Homo sapiens: one gene and its partner. The protein of the gene in region 1 purifies or fractionates together with the protein of each later gene. This does not show direct contact. Each region holds a gene or a part of one and is shown on either strand. Other genes may lie near its edges.

The links.
Region 2: the proteins of ERMAP (region 1) and FAM199X purify together in Homo sapiens (affinity purification with mass spectrometry; 2 studies listed by BioGRID and IntAct, with this or other methods). This does not show direct contact.

What each region holds. Positions count from the first base shown.
Region 1 is NC_000001.11:42,843,307-42,845,491, forward strand, and holds the end of ERMAP (erythroid membrane-associated protein precursor), read left to right. Parts: 3' UTR 1-1,685; downstream 1,686-2,185. UniProt on the Homo sapiens protein: Possible role as a cell-adhesion or receptor molecule of erythroid cells.
Region 2 is NC_000023.11:104,169,453-104,172,952, forward strand, and holds part of FAM199X (protein FAM199X), read left to right. Parts: intron 1-3,500.

The DNA.
Region 1 (2,185 bases):
TGATTATGGAACGTCTCTTCACCTTAACCCAAATCCAGACCCTTTTGTGGTTTCTATTTGTACCACTTTTCTCCCAGGCCTCAGTTCTGAAGCTTACCTTTCTTCTAAGGAATTGAAGCTCCCAGTGACCTGGAGGGAGGATTCCTGGAAACCAAACAATCAGTTTAGGTGCAGGTGGAGATGTTGAATATGTGTTACCAAGATACAGCACAGGTTCAGGGAAAAGAGTTCGCTACTCCAGGGGTTATTTAGAAGACACTTTCTCTGCCTCATCCTGCCCTCAAGCTTTAGTCAAGAAGTTATGGCCCCCAGTCCCTGACTTCTTACTTATCCCATTGAGGACTGCCTTTCTCTCTCTCAGTTCTGGCCTCTGCCCCCCAAAGTCAGCTCTCTAAAAGCAAGCATGTTTTAGACCACTCACTCTTTCCCTCTTTCTTCAGGAATGAATTGGGAAAGGCTGATGAGTAAAACATACCATCCTTTTCTATTTTCTTGATGCTGTTTACAACATAGTTTGGTGATATCCAGAGCTAATGTACATGCTTTCAAAAGCTAATCTGCCTGTTGATGGTAACTAGGTACAGCGACTTTAAATACAGTTGCTATAATCCTGAAAAGCCCCAGGAGCACATCAGGGAGCTGGGAAACACAGTTGCAGAGAACTCAGCTGTATGTTGCCCTCTGACCTTGGCCCAGACCTTCAGAGGCTCAGTCTGTTGAGTCTGTTGTGACTGTCTTATGAATCAATCTGTTGTGCCAACCCTTTCTGAGATTCAGAGAGGTCCAGCTAGAAAAAGTGGCAGTTTTAACCACCAACGTAGAAGCTTTTTTTTCCCCACAAGACCATTGTACTGCAATACTTGAGTATTTGTGTAGCAAACAGCCTCTTAGGTTGGAGAGTATTGATTTCAAATAGGAAGTTGGTAGACTAGGTGTGAGGATGAAATAATGACCTTGATTTTTGGGTGTGTATTGCAGAAGCCTCGTCGCTTTCAAGTCACATCATATATGCGATCTGGCCTAACCATGGAGATATTGGTTATCAGTTTGCAGATGAATACACAGTTCTATCCAACAGAAACTGTATCTTTCTGTTTGTCAGAAGTTCTCCGTTAGTTCCTGTATTAGTCAAGGTTTTCCAGAGAAACAGAATCAATATATATTGGGGCAGGGGGGCGGTGGTTATTATAAGGAATTGGCTCACGTGATTATGGAGGCGGTTAAATCCCAAGATCTGCAGGATAAGTCAGCAAGATGGAGTCCCATGAGAGCTGATGGTTTAGTTCCAGTCTGATGGCAGCAGGCTTGACGCCAAGGAAGAGATGATGTTTAATTCAAGTCCGAAGGCAAGGAAAAAGCTGATGGTCCTGTCCAAAGGCTATTAGGCAGGAAGAATTCTCTTAGGGCAGAGTTAGCTCTTTTGTTCTATTCAGGCCTTCAACTGATTCAGCAAGGCCCGCCCACATTTGGGAGGACAGTCTGCATTACTCAGTCTACTGATTTGAATGTTAATGTCATTGAGAAACACCCTCACAGGAACACTCAGAATAATGTTTGACCAAATAGCTGGGCATCTTGTGACCCAGTTAAGTGGATACATAAGATTAACTATCACAGTGACTCAGTGGAATTTTTTGTTTGCTTTTGTACAGTTTTAAAATAAAAGTTTGGTATTTGTGTTTTGGTATGCTGTTATTTTCATTGTGAATGAGGAGTTGTGGGGAAGGTAAGAGATTGGTTTCCAAAGAGCTTTGAGTCCCCCAAGGCAAGGTTTAGCCACCGTTCATACTAAAGCCATAGTTTTATTCCTGAGTCTGCTCTCTAGTATTTTATTTTATCAATTTATAAACAAATAGTGTTCATAAGGCACACATATTTCACTCAACCATATTCAGTTCCAAACATGCATTCCTGAATATCCCAATCTTAAAACTAACTCACATTGTCAGCTTGTGGAGGCAGAATACATGCATACATATACACATACATACATGAATATACATATAATATACACACACATATGCATACATACACATATACACATGTATACATGTATGTGTATATACATATCTGTACTACATAGGTGTATATATATGTATATGTATTTAGCATGTATGCACGTGTATATGTATACACATATATACATATGTATGTATAATACATATTCACACATGTATGCATGTAT
Region 2 (3,500 bases), on another chromosome or scaffold:
TTATGACAATTTTGTGCCTACTCATTTACTGGATTCTGGGCTATATTTGCAATTTTCATTAACAAAGACAGTCACAGCACTAACAGTCCCTGAGGTTGAATGGTTGCAATATTCAGATTTTTTTTTTTCTTTAAAGACAGAGTCCTGCTCTGTCATCCAGGCTAGAGTGCAGTTGCACAATCTTGGCTTAGGGCAACCTCCGCCTCCTGGGTTCGAGCGATTCTCCTGCCTCAGCCTTCTGAGTAGCTGGGACTATAGGCGTGTACCACTATGCCTGGCTAATTTTTATATTTTTAGTAGAGACAGGGTTTCACCATGTTGGCCAGGCTGATCTTGAACTCCAGACCTCAGGTGGTCCACCCACGTTGGCCTCCCAAAGTGCTGGGATTACAGGTGTGAGCCACCGCGCCCGGCCCAGTATTCAAATTAAAGTCATTTGTGATGTAGGTTGGTATGTCACTGGTCTAGGTTCAGTAGAAAATACATTACATGGACACAGCCAGTTTCCTAAGCATTCATACCTTAAGACCTACATGGATTGGTCTAGAATTTTAGGAAAATAGAATAAATTTCAATAAGCCAAAAAAGTGAATGAATTTTTTAAAAATGTGAAATGTCAGTGTGGAACATATGTAGTGTTTAAGACATTTTCTTTGGTTTTGGGGGCAGTGATTTTCTGATGTAAATGGAGGTTTTCTCTTAGCACTTCCAAACTATTGCATAAATCTTTTACTCAGTTATGTGATTTTAGAGCTCCGTTTTCAATCACCATTAACCAGAAAAACCTAAAGACTATTGTGTGCCTTTGGTAACACCCATAGTTTTCCTATCTAGATACAGAATTAGAGGTGCAGAAGAGCTGTGGGTTGCAGGTGGGAGAACCATGTTGGAGGAATTTGGTTTGGGGACTTGCTGAGACAAGTTGAAAATGGGGGGTTAGGATTTGGAGAAATATCCAAGCTAGAAATACAGATTTGGGAGTAATCAGTAGAAGTCCGTGACGTGATAGAAGTGGAACTACAGGTTACAAAGGTTGAGAGAGTGGAAGGTTTTCAATAAATTTAGCAGGGAAAGAAAGGAGAAGGGGAGATGTTGTGAGAATTTGAAAGGGAAATAAAGGTTTCTTTTTTTCTTTTTTTAACTTCATTTAGTTTTTCTTTTCCAAGAATAGAGATGTTAGCTCCTTAGAAGCAGGCCACAGGAAAGGGAGAAATTGAAAATATAAAAGAAGGTGGGATGAGAGATAGACATGATGAACTCAGAAGTCCAAATGGGATCATTAGCCTTAGAAATGACATAGAGTGTTTTTTACTTCCAAGGCAATAAAGAGGGCAGGAAAGATGGGTAATGAACCCAACACAATTGGGGTAGCTAGGAGGAAAGTAGGGAACTTAAGTGGGTAGAAGAAGGGGTTGTATATTCTCTAACTTGGAACCTTGGTGGCCTGTTGGACTCCAGAATAGCAGCAGAAGTCAGGTTGGCTATATGGGGATTCTGGCAGAGAGTCAGTGGTGAATACAAGTACTGATGGGGCACTGTACCCTAAGAATGAATATATAGCATAGACTTCAAATGACCTTCATCAGCTTGGCAGAACTTCATTCAACAGTGCTCATTGGCTGGATTCTTATCTTCAGAAGTGGCAGTCAGGCCCACCTGAGAGAAAAGGGGGTGCAGAGGAATGTGTACATGGTACACATGCTTTTCTTAATTTTAACGTTTAAATGGCTGTTTACCAAAATACCATTGAAAGTCCTTAGTCTGTATATTCTTGCTGAAACACCTTGCAGAGAAATGTTCTTGGCTTTATTTTTTTTTTTAATTAAAATTTGGGCAGCAAGCCTAGTTATTGAGTTAAACACCGTGTTTCACTGGAATTCTTTTCAACGTCTTTCAAGATTTTGGAGAAAGTCTCTTTTGAGAGTAATATTATGGTGATAGCTAGAGTCGAAGTGTTAGGTAACTTTCTCTTAGTGGAATATAATGTAAGGGCTTGTAAATTTAAATAGTTTAGTGCTGAGCACACAATGGACATTCATTACAAGTTTGAAACTGACAGAACAGTCTGAAAGAATCACACTTAAATTTTTATTTAAAAACTTATTATAGAAAACTGAGGGCATATAAAAAACTATAGACCACTCATGATCCTTTTCCCCAAAGGTAACAACTATCAACATTTTGATGTTTCTTTTAATGTGTCTATGTACAGATATAATTTTTAAACATCAGGATCAGTTTGTGACCTGCATATTTGCTCCTATATTGTTGGGTGTTTTCCTTTTGAATAATCTGAAAATATGATTTTTAGTGATTATAAAAATACCATTCAGATATATCATTTAATCCTCATATTTTAGGGGCATTTATTTTCCCTTTTGGACTATTACAAATAGTATTGTTTGGACATATTTGTACACACATCTTTTTTCCAAATTTCTGTTTGGGGAAGGGAACACAATCCTAGAAGGGGAATTACTGATTCCAAATGAATGAACCTTTTTAAACGTCTAGATGTACATAGTACTGCCAAATTGCTTTTAAGAAAGATTATGTCAACTTAGACTGTCACTGGCAATGGATGAAAGTACTTCCTACTTTGTTTTTATCTATATTGCCTTAAAATTATGATTTTAAAAATTTGCAAATTAGAAGATATAAAAATTTTGCCAGGTGCATTGGTTCACACCTGTAATCCCAGCGCTTTGGAAGACCAAGGTGGGAGGATTGCTTGAGCCCAGGCATTTGAAACCAGCCCGGACAACGTGATGAAACCCTTTCTCTTCCAAAAAAAAAAAAAAAAAAGAAATGTGAAAATTAGCCAGGCGTGGTGGTATGTGCCTGTAGTCCCAGCTGCTGGGAAGGCTGAGGTGAGAGGATGAATCAAGCCCAGGAGGTCAAGCCTGCAGTGAGCCATGGTCGCACCACTGCACTCCAGCCTTGGTTGACAGAGCAAGACCCTGACTCAAAAAAAAAAAAGGAAGATATAAAAAATGTTACAATCTTTACTAGTAAAAAATACTGTTATTCTATTTTATGAATGATTTGTTCAATTATGAGCCCGGTTTACTTGCTGCTGATAATTAAAAACAAAAGACAAAGACTTCTAAGAACATTCAGAACCTTGTGATGATTACAAATCTGAGAAACACATTGACTTTGCCCAAAGGTAAGAGCACAAAATGAAGCAAATTCCTGACTCCTTTGGCAGTGATCTAATGGTTAGATTACTAAATATGGCATCTTTTTTTTTTTTTTAAGGAATGTCACTATTACTCATGGAGAGAAACACATTTCTACAGAATTTTTACAAACTAAAAAGAAATTCTAATTAAAAACAATTATCTAACAGTTTTTCCTAGCACCGAACATAGTACTTGGTACATAGAAGATACTGACTAAATGTTTGTTGAATGAGTGAATGAATAAAGGGAAAAAAATCACATGTAATTTGAAGACACAAGAGAAAAATAGTTTGCTCAGGACATAATGTAGATAAG